Homo sapiens: one gene and its partners. The protein of the gene in region 6 interacts with the protein of the main gene of each other region in a pairwise test. Each region holds a gene or a part of one and is shown on either strand. Other genes may lie near its edges. The genes, in order: ALKBH4, AAGAB, TACC3, PFDN1, DDX3X, EIF3C and BTG3.

What was found.
Region 1: the proteins of EIF3C (region 6) and ALKBH4 interact in a two-hybrid assay, tested with the Homo sapiens proteins (one study listed by BioGRID and IntAct).
Region 2: the proteins of EIF3C (region 6) and AAGAB interact in a two-hybrid assay, tested with the Homo sapiens proteins (one large-scale study listed by BioGRID and IntAct).
Region 3: the proteins of EIF3C (region 6) and TACC3 interact in a two-hybrid assay, tested with the Homo sapiens proteins (one large-scale study listed by BioGRID).
Region 4: the proteins of EIF3C (region 6) and PFDN1 interact in a two-hybrid assay, tested with the Homo sapiens proteins (one large-scale study listed by BioGRID and IntAct).
Region 5: the proteins of EIF3C (region 6) and DDX3X interact in binary tests that used the Homo sapiens proteins (3 or more experiments, as listed by UniProt).
Region 7: the proteins of EIF3C (region 6) and BTG3 interact in a two-hybrid assay, tested with the Homo sapiens proteins (one large-scale study listed by BioGRID and IntAct).

What each region holds. Positions count from the first base shown.
Region 1 is NC_000007.14:102,458,801-102,461,863, reverse strand, and holds part of ALKBH4 (alpha-ketoglutarate-dependent dioxygenase alkB homolog 4), read left to right. Parts: intron 1-2,062; coding exon 2,063-2,260; intron 2,261-3,063. UniProt on the Homo sapiens protein: Dioxygenase that mediates demethylation of actin monomethylated at 'Lys-84' (K84me1), thereby acting as a regulator of actomyosin-processes.
Region 2 is NC_000015.10:67,206,162-67,209,661, reverse strand, and holds part of AAGAB (alpha- and gamma-adaptin-binding protein p34), read left to right. Parts: intron 1-117; coding exon 118-200; intron 201-1,003; coding exon 1,004-1,100; intron 1,101-3,500. UniProt on the Homo sapiens protein: May be involved in endocytic recycling of growth factor receptors such as EGFR.
Region 3 is NC_000004.12:1,728,021-1,731,520, forward strand, and holds part of TACC3 (transforming acidic coiled-coil-containing protein 3), read left to right. Parts: coding exon 1-767; intron 768-2,866; coding exon 2,867-2,942; intron 2,943-3,151; coding exon 3,152-3,281; intron 3,282-3,500. UniProt on the Homo sapiens protein: Plays a role in the microtubule-dependent coupling of the nucleus and the centrosome. Involved in the processes that regulate centrosome-mediated interkinetic nuclear migration (INM) of neural progenitors.
Region 4 is NC_000005.10:140,296,602-140,300,101, reverse strand, and holds part of PFDN1 (prefoldin subunit 1), read left to right. Parts: intron 1-3,500. UniProt on the Homo sapiens protein: Binds specifically to cytosolic chaperonin (c-CPN) and transfers target proteins to it. Binds to nascent polypeptide chain and promotes folding in an environment in which there are many competing pathways for nonnative proteins.
Region 5 is NC_000023.11:41,347,468-41,350,774, forward strand, and holds the end of DDX3X (ATP-dependent RNA helicase DDX3X), read left to right. Parts: intron 1-172; coding exon 173-252; 3' UTR 253-2,807; downstream 2,808-3,307. UniProt on the Homo sapiens protein: Multifunctional ATP-dependent RNA helicase. The ATPase activity can be stimulated by various ribo-and deoxynucleic acids indicative for a relaxed substrate specificity.
Region 6 is NC_000016.10:28,724,964-28,728,463, reverse strand, and holds part of EIF3C (eukaryotic translation initiation factor 3 subunit C), read right to left. Parts: coding exon 3,452-3,500; intron 1,860-3,451; coding exon 1,669-1,859; intron 1,444-1,668; coding exon 1,219-1,443; intron 1-1,218. UniProt on the Homo sapiens protein: Component of the eukaryotic translation initiation factor 3 (eIF-3) complex, which is required for several steps in the initiation of protein synthesis.
Region 7 is NC_000021.9:17,599,402-17,602,901, reverse strand, and holds part of BTG3 (protein BTG3), read left to right. Parts: intron 1-3,500. UniProt on the Homo sapiens protein: Overexpression impairs serum-induced cell cycle progression from the G0/G1 to S phase.

The DNA of each region.
Region 1 (3,063 bases), on a different chromosome or scaffold from region 6:
GCTGAGTTCTGGTGGCCTCCGAAGTCCTCACTGGGTGACTCCGGCCAGAACCTCCACACCTCCTGCCCATGATAGTTATGGTACCTTCCTCTTGGGGCTGTCCTGGGGATGAAACTAGATAATCCATGTAAAATGTTCAGTGCCACAGATGCAAATACTGGCTATTTCATTGGCGAAACTCTTTTTTAAAAATTTACTATTGGCTGGGCATGGTGGTTCACGCCTGTAATCCCAGCACTTTGGGAGGCCAAGGCGGGAGGATCACAAGGTCAGGAGTTCAAGACCATCCTGGTCAACATGGTGAAACCTCGTCTCTACTAAAATACAAGAAAAAAATTAGCTGGGCATGGTGGCGCGCACCTGTAGTCCCAGCTACTCGGGAGGTTGAGGCAGGAGAATCGCTTGAACCCAGGAGGTAGAGGTTGCAGTGAGCCGAGATCGTGCCACTGCACTCCAGTTCTGGTGACAGAGCGAGACTCCATCTCAAACAAACAAACAAACAAACAAAAAGTATTATTATTATTTTCAAGATGGGGTCTCACTGTGTCACCCAGGCTGGTGTCCACTAGCACGATCTTGGCTCACTGCAATCTCCACCTCCCGGGTTCAAGGGATTCTCCTGCCTCAGCCACCTGAGTAGCTGGGATTACAGGCATGCACCACGACGCCCGGCTAGTTTTTGTATTTTTAATAGAGACGGGGTTTTGCCATGTTGGCCAGGCTGGTCTTGAACTCCTGACCCCAGGTGATCAGTCCACCTTGGCCTCCCAAAGTGTTGGGATTACAGGTGTGAGCCACCGTGCCTGGCCTGGTTTCTAGACTTTCTTTAGCATGGGGGAACCCTTAGAGTACCGCCAGGCCTCGGGGTTGGTGGCAGAGCAGAGAGGGACATGGGGTGGGAGTTGAGTGACAGCCCAGGGTATGAGGATTGAGGGGTGATGCTGGGTCTGGAAAGGTGCCCTGAGGACAAGAGTGAGGAGAAGGGAGGTTGGGACACTGAGGAGCTCAACTGAACGCTCAGCTCTGTAGGGAAGTTGGCTGCCCTCCTAGGTGACCCTCACGCTGGTGATAGGCACGGGCCAACCCCTGGGACACCGGGGTGGCATCAGCAAAGACCTAAAGAGATTAGGGTGCACAGATTCAAGGTAGTCAGGCAGTTTGGGGCCTCCTGGAAGCAGCTGAGGAGATGGGAGTGCAGGAGGTGCTGTCCAGCCTCGGGCTGGTTCCTTAACTTTGCTGAGCCTCCTTTGTAAAATGGAGAAGGAAAAACATGTTGTACAAACCCTTCTCTTTTACAGGGGAGGAAAGTGAGAAAGGAAACCAATCAAATTCGTGTTAGCTCAAGAGGGCTGCGGGCCTTCCCCGGTCAGCCTGGGGCAGAGGCTCTGCCTGCACCTCCCCCTAGACTCCAGCTGCCTTCCACAGTGTCCTGAGGGGAGGAATGAGCCATCAGAGGGTCTCCTGAGGGCACACAAGTGCCAGGGGCTGCCATGGCTCCAGGATGTGTCTTTCCTTTTTTTTTTTTCTTTTTTTTTTTTTGAGACAGGGTCTTGCTTTGTTGTCCAGGCTGGAGTGCAGTAGCGCGACCATGGCTCACTGTAGCCTCAACCTCCTGGGCTCAAATGATCCTCCCGCCTCAGCCTCCTGAGTAGCTGAAATGACAAGTGCGCTCTGCCACACCCGGCTAATTTTTATTTAAACTTTTTTTTTTTTTTTGAGTCTCACTCTGTCGCCCAGGCTGGAGTGCAGTGGTGCCATCTTGGCTCACTGCAACCTCTGCCTTCTGGGTTTAAGCAATTCTCCAGCTTCAGCCTCCTGAGTAGCTGGGATTACAGGCACCTGCCACCATGCCTGGCTAATTTTTGTATTTTTAGTAGAGATGGGGTTTCACCATGTTGGCCAGGCTGGTCTTGAACTCCTGACCTCAGGTGATCCACCCACCTCGGCCTCCCAAAGTGCTGGAATTACAGGCGTGAGCCACCGCACCTGGCCTGTTTTAACTTTTCGTAGGGACCGGGTCTCGCTGTGTTGCCCAGCCTGTGGACTTGTGTTTCTTTTGCAGAAAACATACCGTTTCATTTACTGCTCCGACACCGGCTGGGCCGTGGGCACAGAGGAGTCTGACTTTGAGGGCTGGGCCTTCCCCTTCCCAGGAGTGATGCTGATCGAGGACTTTGTGACCCGGGAGGAAGAAGCCGAGTTGGTGCGGCTCATGGACCGTGACCCCTGGAAGCTCTCCCAGTCTGGACGGAGGAAGCAGGTAGACCGGCCCTGAGCTCATGGGGGTTGCTGGGCTGCGCTGAGGAGACAGCCCTACTGCTGGGGGCCATCCCCCTCCTTGCAGCCACACCCCTCAAACCTCCAGGGTTGGTAGTGGGCGAGTTCCCCAGACCTTGGGGCTGTGGGCAGCCAGACTCGCTGCAGGACGTGTGTCCGATGGGCAGAGGTGCACCTGGGCACCCCATCTCCCTGTGATATGCGCTCCTGGGCTCTCTGCCCCTCTGTAGCTGGCTTGGTGGTGGTGAAGGCACCCCATTCTCCCAAGCTGCAGGCGCCCCCACCTCCCATTGTCACCATCCGTGTCCTGTCTCCTCACACGCATTCCCACCTTCCCCCTCCCCGGGCCCGCCGCTCCCTCCAACTCCTTCCCCACCTGTGTCCAAACATCCCCGGGTGCCCCCTCTCCCTTCATTGTAGGTTTTTTTTTTTTTTTTTTTTGAGACAGAGTCTCGCTCTGCCACCCAGGCTGGAGTACAGTGGCATGACCTGAACTCACTGCAACCTCTGCTTCCCGGGTTCAAGCCATTCTTCTGGCTCAGCCTCCCAAGTAGCTGGGACTACAGGTGCCCACCACCATGCCCAGCTAATTCTTGTACTGTTAGTGGAGACGGGGTTTCACCATGTTGACCAGGCTGGTCTCGAACTCCTGACAAGTGATCCGCCCGCCTCAGCCTCCCAAAGTGCTGGGATTACAGGCGTGAGCCACCGCGCCCAGCCCCATTCTTTTGTGACATCCTGTTGGATGTTGGTACATTTCATTTCCTCATTCATCTGTCGATGGAC
Region 2 (3,500 bases), on a different chromosome or scaffold from region 6:
TATATATGTAGTTAGAACTTTGGTAACAAATAAGTAGCCTTTGTTTCATCATCATAGCCATTTGAACAGTTTAAAATGTAAATGACAAATTTCACTAAGTGTATTTTTCCTTTTCAGATAGGAACCAAGGCTTTAGCCTTCTCAACTCATTGACTGGAACAAACCATAGCATTGGGTCAGCAGATCCCTGTCACCCAGAGGTAAAGGTTTTTCTTGGATCTTTTTTCCCTCTTTGGCTTTAATTTCTCCTTGTCATTATGAATCTTGACACATTCACCATTGTTTTCCTTTCCATTTAAAAGGTGACAGAGAATGTTAAAAATAGATGAAAGGAAGGTCTAAAACAGCCCTTGCTAAAGCAGTAAGCCCTTTCAAGATGTTTACAGCTTTGGTTTTATTTTTACTAGGGTGCTTTCTAAAATATGCTAGGATTTCCCTGAGGCATTAATTTGCCTTCAGATCTTTAAATAGAAAATAAAATTCATGGTGCTTTTTTAGTACTTCCTGTGTAAAAGACCTTGGCAAATCTGAGGCAAGGTCCCTGTCCTCAATGAGCTTGTAGTCCAGTTTCAACCCTGCATCCTTAAGAACTTTGTTCCAGGTTTACCTTGGTCAGCAGCTGGAGCCAAGAGCAAATTATACAGTGCCACATTGTCTTTCCAGGGATCTTTTTCAACAGCCTCTGAGCTATTTGTGTTACGATTGTGTTACATTTTCACATTTTGAATATAACATGGATCTTAAATGAGACAAACAAAAAACATGTTTTAGTAGTCTAAAGCAAAATCAACGCTTTCTAGTTCTTCCTTGGGGGAAAGTACTTCTGGGTTAGTTAAGTTTTAGCCTTTTATTTTTTTAATGTGATCTTGCTCTTCTTTCTTTGCCTCCAGTTCCTATTACTCTTTTCTCAAGCCAACCAAGGACTGAAAGTGTGAGCTTTTTTGGATTTAGTTCTGAAATAGACTACGATTAAATTGTTGCTTATGTGTATTTTCCTCAACAGCAACCCCATTTGCCAGCAGCAGATAGTACTGAATCCCTCTCTGATCATCGGGGTGGTGCATCTAACACAACAGATGCCCAGGTTGATAGCATTGTGGGTAAGTTCCTCCTTTGGCTGCCAAGAGAGAGCTTTGTGCAACTTGGAATAGGTATCTGGGCAGAAATTGTTGAGGGGGAAATTGACTTTAAACACAGAGAAGGGAAAAAAATTGGTAGTATACCACACATGAATGTGAGCCTTGCCAGTGGCTATCAGAAAAAGGAAGAAGAATAAATATATAACAAATATGTGGGTACCATTTTCTCTTTAATTCTCCTAGCAGGATCTTGATTCAGATAATCTTAGCCAAGGCAGACCGAACCAGGTGGCGAAACAGCTAGCTCTGTATCACGTAGTTTTTTCATAATATTTAACAGAAGTCAGAATCGATGGTGACAAGAATAATACAACTTTATATTTATAAGCCCTTCCATATGCTTTTAAAGTTATTTTATATCCCCTTTCTCATTTGGTAATGAAGTTTTGCAGAGAAGTTTAATAACTTGTCCAAGGACATCTAGCAAGAAGGGCCTGGAGCTGAAGCTGGAATCCAGTATGCTGTCCAAAAGCCAGAAAACCAAGGAGCTTACTTGACAATAACTATAAATCTTCTTTCGCTGGGGAACTACTGATATTCCTACTTTATCTTTATGCTACAGACGGCTCATGTGCAGTAATAAATTTTTAAAACTCTTTTTTCTTATGAGATAATTCATGTAGAAAACTCAAGTGATTGGTTATAGAAACATATGAAGAAGAAGAAAAAATTATGTATAATTTTTTTTCTTTCCAGTTTATTCATCCTTAGCCTCTCAATTGAATCCTTCCCATTGGCTTTTAAACCTGCCAGAGTCTCTGCCATTAAAACAAACTAGTAATCACACTGAAGTGGGTGGGGACTTGAAGCACTAACCTAAGTAACTTTAGAAAACAGTAATTGGACTAGATACCGTAAGGCTAAAAACAAAAATAACTGAACACAGATACTGAACTCTACTTAGTAAATTTGTTTCTTATAGGAGCATGGCTCAGCAATTCTGAAATTTTATATATAGATATTTTATACACCACACATATACTGACATATAGAAAATAAAAAATATAGATAGTGAGAGTTAGGTTTCTCACTGCCAGAGGAAAAAGGTTACAAATAAGGAAAAGGGAAGGCCAAGATGTACCCTTTGGTACTGGATTGGAATCTAATGTATCAGTATGAACTCATGGCTTTAAAAATATACTTACAGTTAAGAAAATAAATACAGATGTGTGTGTATATGCGTGTATTAGTATACACACATATATTTCCTAGTTCTGTCCACTGAGAGGCCTAGAAGCAACAATACCACCATAGCAGTGGACACACTTAGCACTCAGATCTTGCTTTCTTTTTGTGTGTGTGTGTTGTTGTGTTTTTGTTTTTGTTTTTGTTTGAGATGGAGTTTCGCTCTTGTTGCCCAGGGTGGAGTGCAGTGGCACGATCTCGGCTCACCGCAATCTCGCTTCCTGGGTTCAAGCGATTCTCCTGCCTCAGCCTCCTGAGTGGCTGGGATTACAGGCATGTGCCACCACGCCCAGCTAATTTTGTTTTGTGTTGTTTTTTAGTAGAGACGGGGTTTCTGCGTGTTGGTCAGGCTGGTCTCAAACTCCCGACCTCAGGTGATCCACCTGCCTCGACCTCCCAAAGTGCTTGGATTACAGGCGTGAGCCACTGCGCCTGGCCAGATCTTGCTTTCTAAATACCATTCTCCAATAAAAGGAACTAGGGCTCCTTGGAGAAGTGGTTGATTCCAGGACTTGGGCAAGAAAAATACAGGATGACCCTGGAGCATCTCTTGGTACCAGAAATTAAGAAAATTCTCAAAAAAGAATGGGGACATGTTGAAAGGGCATAGGGACCAACCTGAAAGAGCTTCCAGTGGCTAAATCTGGAACAATTTGACCAGCAAAGTAGATTAATATAGTATTGGGTTATAACCCATAGAGTAAGCTAAGTATCCATGAGTTCATACTAATATAAATAAATAATTGAATAAACAAATGAGAAAGAAAGGACAGCATCTCCTTCCAGAAGAATCCCAAGTAATAAATATAGAAGGAATGAGGAAAATAGAAAGCCATCATTAGGCACAAAACACAGTAATAGTTCTTGGTAGCATAGGTGAAAGTTTGAGGAGAAGTAGTATATCTGCATAGTCTAAAAGTATCTCTCTCAAGATGTTTATTTATTACAAAGGGGAAAATAGTAACTTTACACTGGAGAAACTCATCAGATGCCAGCCACTTTAATTATGTAATGAAGGTTAACATCACTGGTAATAAGACATATTGACATAATAGCCCTCCTGATAGGATGCAGTGAGAAGGTAATCTCACCAAAAATGCATAACTGCAATCTAATAATAAGAAAACAATCTGACAAACCCAATTAAGGGACATTATACAAAATAACTGACATACA
Region 3 (3,500 bases), on a different chromosome or scaffold from region 6:
AGGACAGAGTCCCAGCACAAAGCGGAGACTCCGCACGGAGCCGAGGAAGAATGCAAAGCGGAGACTCCGCACGGAGCCGAGGAGGAATGCCGGCACGGTGGGGTCTGTGCTCCCGCAGCAGTGGCCACTTCGCCTCCTGGTGCAATCCCTAAGGAAGCCTGCGGAGGAGCACCCCTGCAGGGTCTGCCTGGCGAAGCCCTGGGCTGCCCTGCGGGTGTGGGCACCCCCGTGCCAGCAGATGGCACTCAGACCCTTACCTGTGCACACACCTCTGCTCCTGAGAGCACAGCCCCAACCAACCACCTGGTGGCTGGCAGGGCCATGACCCTGAGTCCTCAGGAAGAAGTGGCTGCAGGCCAAATGGCCAGCTCCTCGAGGAGCGGACCTGTAAAACTAGAATTTGATGTATCTGATGGCGCCACCAGCAAAAGGGCACCCCCACCAAGGAGACTGGGAGAGAGGTCCGGCCTCAAGCCTCCCTTGAGGAAAGCAGCAGTGAGGCAGCAAAAGGCCCCGCAGGAGGTGGAGGAGGACGACGGTAGGAGCGGAGCAGGAGAGGACCCCCCCATGCCAGCTTCTCGGGGCTCTTACCACCTCGACTGGGACAAAATGGATGACCCAAACTTCATCCCGTTCGGAGGTGACACCAAGTCTGGTTGCAGTGAGGCCCAGCCCCCAGAAAGCCCTGAGACCAGGCTGGGCCAGCCAGCGGCTGAACAGTTGCATGCTGGGCCTGCCACGGAGGAGCCAGGTCCCTGTCTGAGCCAGTAAGTGTGAGGATGGGATGGGGAGCGTGGCGTGGGGCAGCTGCCCTGCAGTGTATGTGGTCCAGGACCCGAGGCCAGAAGTGTCATCAGATACTCCTTTGAGGCCGGGTAGGTTCTGCCTGAGGAGGGGCCTCTGGATAAAAACAGGGCTCAGGTGGCTCCCAGCTGAGGGTGCTTGGCCTTGCCTTGGCTGCCATGCATCTCTTTAGTGCTCCTGGCCTAAGGAGGGATCCAATAAGGGCGGGCTCAGGCCAGAAGCCAAATGCAACCAACCCTGGGCAGGACCCTGTCCCCCAGTCATGTTCCTCCTCAGGTGAACTTGACTTGGGTGTGTAACTCCAAAAGCCAGGCAAAGCCTGTTACTGCCTGGGTGGCGTCCGCTGCTTGCTGGGGTCTTGGCCGTGGGTCTGCTGCCTCCTGGCTGAATGGTCTTAGGCTACATCTCCTAGAGTTGCTCAGTGGGAGATTGTCCTGCCTGTAGGGTCCAGCCCTACTGGGTCTGTGGGTTTTTTCTCCTCGTGTGCATAGACAAGAGATTGTACAAATAAAGACACAAGAAAAAGACAGAAGAAAAGACAGCTGGGCCCGGGGGACCACTACCACCAAGGCACGGAGATCGGTAATGGCCCCGAATGTCTGGCTGCGCTGTTACTTATTGGATACAAGGCAAGGGGACAGGTTAAGGAGTGTGAGCCATCTCCAATGATAGGTCAGGTCACGCAAGTCACGTGTCCACTGGGCCCTTCCCTGTTTGGCAGCCAAGGCGGAGAGAGAGGACAGCTGACGCCATTATTTTTTCTATGTATTTCAAAGACTTTAGCACTTTGACTAATTCTGCTACTGCTATCTAGAAGACAGAGCCAGGTGTACAGAGCGGATCATGAAAGTGGACCAGGAGCGTGACTGCTGAAGCACAGCATCACAGGGACACAGGCCTCTGGATGGCTGCGGGCGGGCCTGACTGATTCCACAAGAGATGGTGGAGCAGAGTCTTCTCTAACTCCCCCAGGGAAAGGGAGACTCCCTTTCCCAGTCTAATTAACGGGTGCCTTCCCAGGCACTGGTGCTACCGCTAGACCAAGCTAGGTAACGGGTGCCTTCCCAAGTGCTGGTGTTACCGCTAGACCAGGGAGCCCTCCAGTGGCCCTGTCCGGGCGTGACAGAGGGCTCACACACCTCTTCCGGTCACTTTCTCACCGTGTGCCTTCACCTCCTATCTCTATATGGCCTGGTTTTTCCTAGGGTTATTTGTTTGTTTGTTTGTTTTTTGAGACAGAGTCTCGCTCTGTCACCCAGGCTGGAGCGCAGTGGCGTGATCTCGCCTCACTGCGAGTTCTGCCTCCCGGGTTCACACCATTCTCCTGCCTCAGCCTCCCGAGTAGCTGGGACTGCAGGCACCCGCCACCATGCCCGGCTAATTTTTTTGTATTTTTTAGTAGAGACGGGGTTTCACCGTGTTAGCCAGGATGGTCTAGATATGACCTCGTGATCCGACCGCCTCGGCCTCCCAAAGTGCTGGGATTACATGCGTGAGCCACCGCACCCGGCGTTTCCTAGGTTATTATTGTAGAACAAAGATTATTATAATATTAGAATAAAGAGTAAAGCTACAAACTAATGATTAACGATATTCATATATAATCATATCTATAATCTATTTCTAGTATAACTATTCTTATTCTGTATATTTATGATACTGGAACAGCTTGTGCCCTTGGTGTCTTGCCTTGGCCCCTGGGTGGCTTGCTGCCCACACCTGCCCCAGCCTCCACATTTGAAGCCTTTTGTCAGTTTCACAGTAAAAGGGATGTACTCATCCTTGTGATTCCCTTTGGCTGCATCGTGCTGACTTTAGAGCTCCCAGCCTGCTTCTCCCAGAGCTGGCAGGCAAGGCGCGTGTTTTCCTGCTGGGTGAGGTTGGTGAGGCAGTTTTGTGGCCAGGTCGCTTGGGACAGCCCCATGCCTGGCACGCTCTAGCTGAATGTTCACGTGGCCGGCACAGCAGTGCAGGGAAAGGCGATGGCAGCTCAGTGCTGGAGCAGGGGACGCCGGGGTTATGGGGTGGGGGGCATGGGCCTCTGCTGACTCTGTCTCCCCAGGCAGCTGCATTCAGCCTCAGCGGAGGACACGCCTGTGGTGCAGTTGGCAGCCGAGACCCCAACAGCAGAGAGCAAGGTAAGGGGTGCTTGTGTGGGTACCTGTGCTCCTGGCCTGGTCGTGTAGAAGAGTAGCAGGCAGTGGAAGCCCCCAGCAGCCTTGGGTGACGGGGTGGGATGTCCCGCTCCCTCTCCCCCAAGTCTACTTCAACAAGGTTGTGGGGAGGCAAAGCCACACCCCAAGTACCTTGACTGCACTGCACAGGGTGACTCTGCCCTTTCCTCCAGGAGAGAGCCTTGAACTCTGCCAGCACCTCGCTTCCCACAAGCTGTCCAGGCAGTGAGCCAGTGCCCACCCATCAGCAGGGGCAGCCTGCCTTGGAGCTGAAAGAGGAGAGCTTCAGAGACCCCGCTGAGGGTACGTTGCCTGGCACAGACGTCACACACAGTCTGCCCGGAGGGGATCCCGTGAGCACTTGGGCAGCTCGAGACACCTGCATCATCGGCAGGTGGTCATTTCGCAGGCAGTTGGGTCCCTTGACTTTGAATGACTCATGCACAAACTTGTGGTTTGTCAAAACTTAGTCAGTGTTAGGAGAGCAGGGCTCATACCTTTAACATAAAAGACTTCTAGAAA
Region 4 (3,500 bases), on a different chromosome or scaffold from region 6:
TGCCACTGCACTCCAGCCTGGGCAGCAGAGCTAGACTCTGTCTCAAAACAAAAGAAACTTTGGTTTAAAGTAAGTATCTTTTTCTTTTTGAGACGGAGTTTTCGCTATATCGCCCAGGCTGGAGTGCAATGGCCCGATCTTGGCTCACTGCAATCTCCGTCTCCTGGGTTCAAGCGATTCCCCTGCTTCAGCCTCCTGAGTGACTGGGATTACGGGCGCTTGCCACCACGCCCTGCTAATTTTTGTGTTTTTAGTAGAGACGGGGTTTTACCATATTTGCCAGGATGGTCTGGAACTCCTGACCTCCTGATCCGCCCACCTCAGCCTCCCAAAGTGCTGGATTACAGATATGAGTCACCACACCCGGCAGGTTAAAGTATCTTAGAAATAACTTTAAAGATTATCTAATTAAATGCTTTCTTTTTTTAAAATGAGGAGCTGAACTTCAGGTAGATTAATTAAAGTGTTTAAGTTTAGACTTTAAAGTACATTTTTTTTTTTTTTTTGAGACAGAGTCTCGCTCTGTTGCCAGGCTAGAGTGCAGTGGTGTGATTCTGGCTCACTGCAACCTCCGCCTCTTGGGTTCAAACAATTCTGCCTCAGCCTCCTGAGTAGCTGGGACTACAGGCGCATGCTACCATGCCCGGCTAATTTTTGTATTTTTAGTAGAAATGGGGTTTTACCGTGTTGGCCAGGATGGTCTCAATCTCTCCTCTTGATCCGCCCGCCTTGGCCTCCCACAGTGCTGGGATTACAGGCGTGAGCCACCGCCCCTGGCCTCAAAGTACATTTCTTAAGTGCTTACTTTCCTGTTCTGTCTATGATTAGGTACTTAAGTGTAAGTTCAGTAATAAAAATGATTTGTCATGGAAAATGTTTATAGCAATATTATATTGTATGTGAAGAAGATTTATTTAAGTAGGTGCAGTTTTAACCTCCTCTTCCCTGCTTAATTTATTAGGAGTGATACAAATCATAAATCTTTCAGATGTCTGATCAGTGTTGTAAAATAAAAATAAAAATTCAATTGTCATTTAAATACACTCATTCTGGCCAGGCATAGTGGCTCATGCCTGTAATCTCAGCACTGCAGGAGGCCAAGGTGGGTGGATCCCCTGAGGTTAGGGGTTTGAGACCAGCCTGGCCAACATGGTGAAACCCCATCTCTACTAAAAATACAAAAATTAGCGAGGCATGGTGGCGCACACCTGTAATCCCAGTTACGAGACTGAGGCAGGAGAACTGCTCGAACCCAGGAGGTGGAGGTTGCAGTGAGCCGAGATTGCGCCATTACACTCCAGCCTGGGCAACAAGAGTGAAACTCTGCCTCAAAAAAAAAAAAAGTAAAAAATACACTCATTCTAAGTGTCATGCATTGTTCTAATAGGAGGACAACTCACATGTGAGAAATCTAGTAAATTATTTTACTTTTGTTTGTTCTAATTAATACATTATTAACTTCGTACATTTCACTTTTTTTTCTTTTAAAAGCATATTGCCCTTGTGAGAGAGAATAGGTCTGCTTCATATTCTGTAAGCAGAAAAAAAGGAATGGAAAAGCCCTTAAGTACAGGTCACATTCCATTACAGTGAGCTAAAAGGAGAAGACTGATTTTTTTTTTTTTTAAGTTGGGGGGAGGTACAGGAGGAGGGTTTTTCTGGAATTTGGTCTTTGAGTATTACTTAGTAAGTAGACCATTACTTCAGATTTGGAGATCTTTTAGTTAGAATGGAATTTGACCTCAGTCTCGGGATGACTTGTTTTGTGATTGATTTGAAGAAAGAATAACATGTGTAAAATTTAATAATGACTTTGGAATGACATCATGAGAAGTAGACCTGCTCATCACTGACTAATCCATATCTTTATGGTTCAGAATTAGATTATGTTAAATTGTTCATCTGATTTGCTTTCTCAGAATGAATAATGTAGCACAAGTAAATTTTATGTCCAAGCTCATATATTTCATTTTAGTTTAAGAGGATAAGGATCCCAATTTGAGAGTTTGTTACTGGGACACAAAAGAATTGGAACAAAGTAGAACCCTTGAATATGTGTCTGTGTAGTATGAAATGCATTGTTGGCATTCACTACAGGATAATTTTATCCTTAATGTGAATATCCTTAGGTCTTAAAACAGTAATGCCAGCTTTATTAACATGTTGTACTTGGATTTCACATCACTGCGCTAGCCTTTGTTTGCAATAGCTAAAGAATTCCTTTTTCAAAATAGAAAAAACGTTTTACTCCCTTTGGGCTTTTGAGCTACAGTGAAGTTTTAATTTTTAATTAGAATAGTTTCATTTATTAAACGTTCTGCAGAAGTGTTAGGAGAGTTGTTTTTTGTACATATTTTCCAAAGTGCTACAGATAAGTTGTTTTCCATACCAAGAATTTTGGAGTTTAAAGGCTAGGATATGAATTAATAAATAGTAGAATGGTATTATTTCCAGAAGGTTTATTTCATATAAATTACGTTTCTTAAAAGAAGTGTGGAGTTTTAAATGTTTGGATAAAGTTGAGCTTCTACATGATTTCAGACTTCTGTTTTAAATTTGACTTTAGTGCTGTCTGCATCTCACCGGGAGTATGAGTTTGACCCTGTATTGTAGGGGCATGTAAGGTGAATAGCGTTTGTTGTTTGGCTAGCGTATTAGTGCCCTGAGAGGAAGAAAAGACTTGCTGAGTATTAGTCTGGTCATGAGGATGTTCTCTTTCTTGATGCTAAACCTGAGATATCTATTTCTGAATTTATAGTCGAGTAATTTTGGGTATCATTGTGATTCACTTCTTTAATTCTAGTCTTTACCTTACTTTGTTTTTTCTTTTCCATTTTGAGTGTTATTTGGGAATTCTGACTAGAATATTACTTTTTCCCAAATTTTCATTTTAAAACCGTAATAAAATGGTTATAATAAAATCCAAAACTTCATTTTTCTTTTAGAACATGCAGTAGATTTTCCCATTGCTGAAATTCAGGTCTCATTGCTTCTTGCCTGGACTTTTATGATAGCATCTTAACTGTTCTTTCTTCCTGCCTTCATTCTGTCTGTCCAAATCCATTCTTCACATATCTTTCAGAATTAATCACATCAATATTCTTCCTAAAGTCCTTTGTTCATCCTCTGTTGTCCACAGGATAAAATCTAAACTTGTTGGCCTTGCATTCATGGTTATTCATAATCTGTTCTTAATTTACCCTTTGCCTCAAGTCCCACCACTTTCTTTTTCCAGGGTTAGGATAGCATGTATATTTCATCTCATGGACCTACCTCCTTCTACTAGTTTGTGTTATATGTTGAGAAGAATTTTGAGATGTCAAATGGGTTTTAAACATGCTTTAATTGATTAGTGATGTCTGTTACACAGTGAGGGTAGAAGAGTAGTAGCACATGTACTAGAAATTGTTATCCTACCCTTGCCACATAGGTTTCCTCACACATGTTATGTTTTTGTGCTTTTTTGCTTTTGCTCAGTCTTTGGCGAATAACATTGTCCT
Region 5 (3,307 bases), on a different chromosome or scaffold from region 6:
ACTTCATAGCTTTGGGAAGGGTTTTTTTCCTTTTAGTCATCTTTTTCAAAGCCTAATTAAACAATTTAAGTTCAGCACTATAGAAACTTGATGGCAAATTACGTAAGGGAAGGATTGTATTTAATGATGGATAACTTCATTAATTTCTCTCTCTTTTTAAATCTCTCATTAGGTGGCTATGGAGGCTTTTACAACAGTGATGGATATGGAGGAAATTATAACTCCCAGGGGGTTGACTGGTGGGGTAACTGAGCCTGCTTTGCAGTAGGTCACCCTGCCAAACAAGCTAATATGGAAACCACATGTAACTTAGCCAGACTATACCTTGTGTAGCTTCAAGAACTCGCAGTACATTACCAGCTGTGATTCTCCACTGAAATTTTTTTTTTAAGGGAGCTCAAGGTCACAAGAAGAAATGAAAGGAACAATCAGCAGCCCTGTTCAGAAGGTGGTTTGAAGACTTCATTGCTGTAGTTTGGATTAACTCCCCTCCCGCCTACCCCCATCCCAAACTGCATTTATAATTTTGTGACTGAGGATCATTTGTTTGTTAATGTACTGTGCCTTTAACTTTAGACAACTTTTTATTTTGATGTCCTGTTGGCTCAGTAATGCTCAAGATATCAATTGTTTTGACAAAATAAATTTACTGAACTTGGGCTAAAATCAAACCTTGGCACACAGGTGTGATACAACTTAACAGGAATCATCGATTCATCCATAAATAATATAAGGAAAAACTTATGCGGTAGCCTGCATTAGGGCTTTTTGATACTTGCAGATTGGGGGAAAACAACAAATGTCTTGAAGCATATTAATGGAATTAGTTTCTAATGTGGCAAACTGTATTAAGTTAAAGTTCTGATTTGCTCACTCTATCCTGGATAGGTATTTAGAACCTGATAGTCTTTAAGCCATTCCAGTCATGATGAGGTGATGTATGAATACATGCATACATTCAAAGCACTGTTTTCAAAGTTAATGCAAGTAAATACAGCAATTCCTCTTTCAACGTTTAGGCAGATCATTAATTATGAGCTAGCCAAATGTGGGCATACTATTACAGGGAAAGTTTAAAGGTCTGATAACTTGAAATAGGTTTTTAGGAGAATTCATCTACTTAGACTTTTTAAATGCCTGCCATAAATGAAATTGAAATGGTAGAATGGCTGACCACAGCAATGACCAGCCCTCATTAGGGCCCTGGATGATTTTTGGTCTAATAACGCATGCTAGTGTTGATGTTTTTTGGTCAAGAGGGTATGAACAGGAAGAATTAAATGCAGCAGGCTTTATTTTAAATGCCGATTCACATTACTCTGTTCAAGCTGCGTTGAGATGTTAAACTGGCTTACTATAGACTTCGTAAAAATGGCTCCAGAAGAGTAACAAACTGAAATCTTTGAGATCACACAGGTTGGAAATATGTACATAACTGCACAAGGTGTCAATTCTGCTCTACAGTGCAGTTTTAGTCAGTTTTAGTTGCATAGGTTTCCATTGTATTTATAGTCTGTTTATGCTAAATCTGGCCAAAGATGAGCATTGTCCACCACTAAAATGCCTCTGCCACTTTGAATTCTGTGCTAATTTTGTGGCCAGAATGCGGTGATCAAAACGCTCCATCTTTTTACAGTGGCATAGGAAGACGGCAAAAATTTCCTAAAGTGCAATAGATTTTCAAGTGTATTGTGCCTTGTTCTAAAACTTTTATTAAGTAGGTGCACTTGACAGTATTGAGGTCATTTGTTATGGTGCTATTTCAATTAGTCTAGGTTTAGGCCCTTGTACATTTTGCCCATAACTTTTTACAAAGTACTTCTTTTATTGCACATTCAGAGAATTTTATATATATGTCTTGTGTGCGTGTCCTTAAACTTCCAATCTTACTTTGTCTCTTGGAGATTGTTGAACGCAGCTTGTCTAGGAAGGGGATGGGACTAGATTCTAAAATTTATTTGGGACCATGGGAATGATAGTTGGGAAGAAAACTATTTGCACACGACAGATTTCTAGATACTTTTTGCTGCTAGTTTTATGTAATATTTATTGAACATTTTGACAAATATTTATTTTTGTAAGCCTAAAAGTGATTCTTTGAAAGTTTAAAGAAACTTGACCAAAAGACAGTACAAAAACACTGGCACTTGAATGTTGAATGTCACCGTATGCGTGAAATTATATATTTCGGGGTAGTGTGAGCTTTTAATGTTTAAGTCATATTAAACTCTTAAGTCAAATTAAGCAGACCCGGCGTTGGCAGTGTAGCCATAACTTTCTGATGTTAGTAAAAACAAAATTGGCGACTTGAAATTAAATCATGCCAAGGTTTTGATACACTTGTCTTAAGATATTAATGAAACACTTCAAAACACTGATGTGAAGTGTCCAGATTCTCAGATGTTTGTTGTGTGGATTTTGTTTAGTTGTGTGTTTTTTTTTTTTTTTCAGTGAATGTCTGGCACATTGCAATCCTCAAACATGTGGTTATCTTTGTTGTATTGGCATAATCAGTGACTTGTACATTCAGCAATAGCATTTGAGCAAGTTTTATCAGCAAGCAATATTTTCAGTTAATAAGGTTTCAAAAATCATGTAAGGATTTAAACTTGCTGAATGTAAAGATTGAACCTCAAGTCACTGTAGCTTTAGTAATTGCTTATTGTATTAGTTTAGATGCTAGCACTGCATGTGCTGTGCATATTCTGATTTTATTAAAATAAAAAGTTGAACTGCACAGTCTCCTTTGTTGTTGTCAATTGTGGTTTATTTTCAGAGGTGTAAATAAAGTGCTCTTGCCTGAAAAATTGTAAAATGTTATTTTTTGCTTGTCATCCAGTGCTATTTTTTGAGATGCCTCTTGGATACAGAATGACTCATACCATAAGTATTTGCAATGAAAGATGAAGATAGTATTAGTTTGAAATACAGTGAAACAGGATTTTTGTAATAGACGGAAATCTAAAAGGCCCTTACTGATAATACAGCATGTATTAGAAATTGGCTTATACTTTGAACAATTTGACATGGGTGGGAGTCTCTTTGTTCTTTGAAGTATCTATTATGAAGGATGGTTGAACAGTGGAAGAATGAGCAGGATAAAAGTCAAGTGTGTCAGTAGTCCAACAAGTGATGGTAAGTATATACTTAGGGAAGGAATCAAGACTATTTGGGCCAGGTGTGATGATTACATAGTCCTATAGTGCTAGTTTACTTGGAAGCTGAGGGGCAGGAAGATTGCTTGAGCCCACGAGTTCAAGTCCAGCCTGGGCAACGTATAGCAAGACCTTATCTCTGAAAACAGGTA
Region 6 (3,500 bases):
TACACACACACCCCCTAAAAGAGACACACACACACCCCTAAAAGATCTTTGAGACCAGCCTGGGCAACATAGTGAGACCCTGTCTCTACAAAAAATAAAAAATTAGCCAGGCATGGTGGCACATGCCTGTAGTCCCAGCTATGGTGGCACATGCCTGTAGTCCCAGCTACTATGGAGGCTGAGGTGGGAGGATCACTTGAACCTGGGAATTTGAGGCTACTGCGGGCCATGATCATGCCACTACACTCAGTCTAGGTGACAGTGCAAGACCCTGCCTCAAAAAACAAAAACAAAAAAAAGTTTAAAAGACCAATACCACCGCCGGCATGATGGCTCACTCCTGTAATCTCAGCACTTTGGGAGGCTGAGGCAGGCAGATCACTTGAGGTCAGGAGTTTGAGACCAGCCTGGCCAACATGGTGAAACCCTATCTCTACTAAATTACAAAAATTAGTCGGAAGTGGTGGCGGGCACCTGTAATCCCAGCTACTCGGGAGGCTGAGGTAGAATCGCTTGATCCTGGGAGGTGGCAGTTGCAGTAAGCCAAGATTGCACCACTGCACTCCAGCCTTGGCGACAGAGCGAGACTCCCTCTCAAAAAAAGACCAACACCACCAAAAGTTGACAAGGAACTCCCAAACACTAACAGGAGTGTAAAATGGTATAACCACTTTTGAGTTTCTTACAAGAATGTTCACAGCAGCTTCATACATTAGAGCCAAAAACTGGAAATAAACTGGGTGTCCGCCAAGAGGAAAACAGACACAGTGATATGTTCATACCATAGAATAGAAACACAAATAGGAGGGCTGTTTAAAAACCAGCAGTACCCCCAGACAGGTTCACCAGGTGCTCTACACATAAACATTTCCTAGTTGCCTCAAATATACTTTTACATGATCTACACTTCCAGACACAGCTTTTTTTTTTTTTTGAACAGTCTTGCTCCATTACCCAGGCTGGAGTGCAGTGGCACAACCTCGGCTCACTGGAACCTCTGCCTCTTGGGCTCAAGCACTACCAAGCCTGGATAATTTTTTTTTTTGACACGAAATTATGTGTTTACATGCAGGAGGACTGCAGGATGCTGGCAACTGGGAAAGACCAAGTGTCTACTTAAATTTGCACCGGCCAGACAGGTGGCTGTTCTGGTTAAGCCAGTTTGCCAAGAGGCCAGGGGCCTGGCACTCCTTCACCTCCAAGGCCTCCCCATCCTACCTGCACTGGCGGGTCTGCATGCTGAATGTTGTCCTGCAAGTGGCTCATGAGCATGAGGTCGCGGGCCTGGTACCAGCGCGAGTGCAGAGCATGGTGGTAGATGTGGCAGAGGATGGCACATGTGCGGATCCGGTCTGTGCGGTCCTTGGCGTAGATGTACTTGCACAGTCTCTCCATCAACACAGCCGAGTCCTCGCCCTCATTTTCTGCCTGGTCTTGCTCAGACTGGGGAGGAAGGGAGGTTATTTGCAAAGGAGATCCAGCTTTAAAAGGCACAGGCTCTAGCAACTAAAGATGAGACTCTATCCAGTCTCATTCTAATACCTCAGTTTCCCTCCCTGCTCCACCTGCGGAAGTCTAGAGAGTAACAGATTTGCTGTCAAGTCCTGACAGAAGTGGAGGACAGGTGGACACACCCATTCCCCTCTGCCATGACTGCCACGTGCTCACCTTTGAGGAGCCCTCAGGCGGGGTCAGCTGTCGCTGATGGGCCTTGTAATCAAACTTGTAGTAGGTGTGCAGGATGCGCAGCAGGTAGATGCGGCAGACCTCCTCGGTAGTGCCCTTCTCCTCCAGGTAGCGCTGCACACGCTCGATGATGGCACACACCTGGGCCTCATCCTTCAAGTGCTCCACGTACTCTGGCAGGGAGAGCACCCACCCTTGTCTCAGCTGGGCAGCCAGGCTTTCCCATCTGTCCCCACTCATTCCAATCAACCCGTCCCTCTTCTGCACCCGTCAGAAAAGTCTAGTCAGTGTGCCCCAGAAAGGCCATCTCCCACTCCCAGGACCCAGAACCTTCCAGTCCCACAGCTTAGGAAAAAAATCCCAACTGCCAACCTCTGCCAATAAGGGTCTGCCAGGCCTGGCCCTTGCCTGGTCTCCCACGATTCTCCCTCTGGCTTCCTGTGCTGGAGTCCCACTGGCCTTTTTACTCCTGGAACATCAAGCTCGCTCTCTGCTCCTCCTGTCAGGCGCTGTCTTCAGCTGATTCTTCCCCTAACTCCTCCTCATTGGATCTCACCTCAGGTGGTCCCTACTTAAGGGTGCTTTCTCCAGCTGTTAGCTACAGCAGCCACCCCTCCAGCCACTTCTTACCACAGGGCCCTAGTTTAACTCTGAACTTTATATCATCTAGAATTATTATTATTATTTTTTGAGATGGAGTTTCACTCTTTCGCCCAGGCTGGAGTGCAGTGGTGTGATCTCAGCTCATTGCAACCTCTGGCCCGCTGGGCTCAAGGGATTCTCCTGCCTCAGCCTCCCACATAGCTGGGATTTACAGGCACCTGCCACCATGCCTGGCTAATTTTTGTATTTGAGTAGAGCCAGGGTTTTGCCACGTTGGCCAGGCTGGTCTCAAACTCCTGACCTCAGGTGATTCACACACCTCGGCCTCCCAAAGTGCTAGGATTACAGGCGTGAGCCACTGCACCTGGCCCAGAATTATCTTAACATCATACTATTTTTTTTTTTTTTTGAGATGGAGTCTTGCTCTGTCGCCCAGGCTGGAGTGCAGGGGTGTGATCTCGGCTCACTGCAAGTTCCGCCTCCTGGGTTCATGCCATTCTCCTGCCTCAGCCTCCCAAGTAGCTGGGACTATAGGCGCCCAGCACCACGCCTAATTTTTTTTGTGTGTGTGTGTGTATTTTTAGTAGAGATGGGGTTTCACCGTGTTAGCCAGGATGGTCTCAATCTCCTGACCTCGGGATCCGCCTGCTTCGGCCTCCCAAAGAGCTGGAATTACAGACGTGAGCCACCACGCCCGGCCATATCTTACTACTATTATTTTTCAATCTGCCTTTCTCCATCCAGCACAAAAGGTAAGCTTTTGGCTGCCTTGTTAATCACTACACCCTTGACTTGATGGGCACATTCACACTTTTACTGAGTAAACTATGCTGCACTTTCACACCCCAATGCCTCTCATCCAAGCTAAACAAGAGAAGTGAATAGATGCCTTACCCCAAAGGTTCTCAAAGTATAGCCCTGAGACCAGCAACCTGGGAGCAGGCTAGAGGTGCAGGTTCTCAAGCCCCACTCAGACCTATGGAATCAGAAACGATGGGACTGGGAGCCAGCATCTCATCAGGCCCTTCCGTGTGAACGCTAGGTAAGTTGAAAGGCTGGCTTTTCAAGCACTCTGACTTAGTATAATCCTCACAAAGCTCTAAACCTAGTAATATTCCCCACAATTTTCCTCTCAGCAAAGCCCACGCTTGCTCAGGCTCACCTTGGGAGTGAGGGTCAGTATTTTGCATTATTTTGGTAAATTCTTCATC
Region 7 (3,500 bases), on a different chromosome or scaffold from region 6:
TTATGTCCAAGGATGTTTAACAAGTTACATAATTATATAAACATTTTGGACCTATGTATTTAAAATGCTTAAAATAAGTCTCAGTACCTGAACATAAAAACTTTAGTTATACGGACATTCTACTTCAGTAGACATTTCATTACTTGATGATGCCTGGTAGGAAAAAACTGCTACTTTGCTTTCATCTTATTAATCTTAGAAAACCTTTTCATTCAGTAGGCTTCTAATTTATATGTAAATTTGCCAAAAATTGGCTCTGATGTGATTTTTTTCACAGCTAATAGAAATCACCTGCGAGTGTCAGGTGTTCATTCAATAACAGAACCCCAAAAAGAAAGACGTATTAATCGTTTAGTAGAGGTGGTTGATATAAGTTAACAGAAGAAAAAGACATTGAGAAATATTTTTTCACCAAAACTGGAAACATAGATATTTTGAAAATTAAAGCTGATCTAGCAAGTATACAATTGATCAAATATCTGAGAATCTTTAAAAATAATAACTCATTGGTATACTAGAGACTAAGATTGTAAAAAAAAATTGAGATGCACTGAGAACATTCTTCATAGTCTTCACTTACTCTGATAGAATAAAATGCTGCAAGAGTACAAAGAGTGCCATATAGTTAGAAAGGTTATCACTTCGTGATACAGAATAGAAAATAAATCTTGCCTATGATGAGAAGTTCTGAGAACAGATGCCAGCTTATCTACTCAACATATTTTACAACTTTTTTTTTTTTTGGTGATTTCTGCCATCCTTTTTTTCCCCCAATAGAGTGTTAAATACTATTGATTGTTTCTAAATAACTAAATTAGCCTTGATGTTTTATCAGTGATCATTGAAAAATGGAAAGTTTAAAAGTTGTCCAGGTGTCTACTAATTCTCCTAAGATATCGACTGCACATTGTAATGTTATAGTAGTATAGTCAGCAGCTTCTCTTACCATGAAGAGAGAGCCTTCATACCAAAATAGTACAAAGGGAAAAATGCAGAACCAAACTAGGTGTCAAAGAAATCTGAGTTAATAATGCTGATCCTTCAATCATTAGATATTTGCCCTTGGTTGAGGTTTCTGTTTACAAAGGCAGGAATTTTTCTCAAATTTCTTGCCTTTCCATTTTTGAATTTTGATTCCATTAATGGGCAAAACTGAAGATAGGCCTAAGTCATTGTTATATTAGTGTCATTAACACATGAATTAACCCTTGATTGTCTTGAAATTTGTTGAGTCTTCCAACTGTGGAGGGGACATGGAGTAAATGTGTATTGCTAAAACCTTATGCTAAGTAAACTTGAAATTAGAGAACACAAATTTTATGTTGTGAGGAACTCAATTGTTTAGGAATTTATTTTTTGTTTGTTTTGTTTTGTTTTAGAGAGAGGGTCTTGCTGTGTTGTCCAGGCTGGAATGCGGTGGCATGATCATAGCTCACTATAATTGTGAACTCCTGGGCTCAAGCAATCTTCCTGCCTTGACCTTCCAAAGTACTAGAATTATAGATGTAAGCTACCATGTCCAGCTTCTGTTTAGGTATTTTATACTACGAAGAGTCACCAGCCGTAGATCAACCACTATCTAGCCAGCTCCAGCTTCCTCGTCCAGCATATAGGAAACTAAGGCCTAGGGAAATTAAGTGACTTGCCTCTGGTGACCAAGCTAGTCAGTGGCAGAGCCAGAATGAGAAACTAGTCTAATGCCCTTTCTACCATCCCGTAGCAACTTTTTTTTTTTTTTTGAGACGGAGTCTCACTCTGTCGCCCAGGCTGGAGTGCAGTGGTGCGATCTCAGCTCACTGCAACCTCTGCCTCCCAGGTTCAAGCAATTCTCCTGCCTCAGCCTCCCGAGTAGCTGGGATTACAGGCGCACACCACCATGCCCGGCTAATTTTTTGTATTTTTAGTAGAGACAGGGTTTCACCATGTTGGCCAGGCTGGCCTCGAACGCCTGACCTCATGATCCACCCGCCTTGGCCTCCCAAAGTGCTGGGATTACAGGCATGAGCCACCGCGCCCAGCCCCTGTAGCAACTTTTATGAGGTAAACTAAAAAAGAATACAAAAGCGAAGTTATGTACTATATTTAAGTAGTATTTATAGTTTCATTTGGCCTATAGGAATGGAAGACAGCATAGCTATCTGAAGAAATAGAACTCATCTATGTGTGATCTCTGAGACTGCTAGATTTCCACATACATTTTCTTTTCTGTTTTTTTAATTTTTTGTTCTTGTTTTTTTGTTTTTTTGAGAGACAGGGTCTCACCATGTTACCCAGACTGGTCTCAAATTCCTGGGCTCAAGCAGTCTGCCCACCTAGGCCTCCTGAAGTGCTGGAATTACAGGTGTAAGCCACTGCACCCAGCCTCATGTACATTTTCAAAGGCTTTATAGCAGTTAAGCCTTTTACTTTATAATAGATAACCATTCTGATTCAGAAATAATTTGAGACGAGTGCTATCTTGAAATGAATTAACTTCAGCTAACTATTGAATCAAAAGCTTGACATTATTTCTACTTAGAGTTACTTATTTTTATCTTTTTTCAAACTTAGAATCACTTTAATTACATTTCTAACTGTATGTGTTTTGTAAGAACCGCTTAACAATATCCTTTGTCCTGATGCTAGAAATTGTTTGATAGTGTTGACACTGTGCAATCTATTTAAATAGATTTGTGGATTTCTCCTATGTCCACTGAATAAAAACTCTTGGTTTTACTTGAGTTTATTACACTATTTTCCTACAGTTCAGAATTTTTTTTTAAGTAACCAGCAGCATATGTTACATATTTTGACAACTTAAAAAAAATCAAAAATCTTCAAAAATGTTTTGGAAGAATAACAAGATTTTTTCATCTTACCTTAAAAAAAATTAAGATGAGAGGTGAGTAGTTATCCTAGGAAACTCTGAAGTAAGCAATATAATTTAAGCAAAACCTCTATATTCTTCAACAACTATCTTTTTTCTTTAATCTCAATAACTGCCTCAGTTCTCATTTTTGTGAGTATAAATAACAGGCCCCCTTTTTTATTTAATTGGGGTTAAAGTCAATTTTATAGGAAATTTCTAGTTGATCTGTGACTTGAATTACTAGCATATATGTTACATTTATAAGTACAGCTGGGGCTGGGCGTGATGGCTCACGCCTATAAACCCAGCACTTTGGGAGGCCGAGGCGGGTGGATCACCTGAGGTCAGGAGTTCAAGACCAGCCTGGCCAGCATGGTGAAACCTCATCTCTACTAAAAATACAAAAATTAGCTGGGCGTGGTGGTGGGCACCTGTAATCCCAGCTACTTAGGAGGCTGAGGCAGGAGAATCACTTGAACACCTGGGAGGTGGAGATTGTAGTGGGCCGAGATTGCACCCATTGCACTCCAGCCTGGGCAACAGAGTGAGACTCCGTCTCAAAAAAAAAAAAAAAAAAATCAGCCAGTGGCGCATGCCTGTAATTCTAGCACTTTGGGTAGCTGAAGTGGGTGGATCTCTTGAGCCTAGGAGT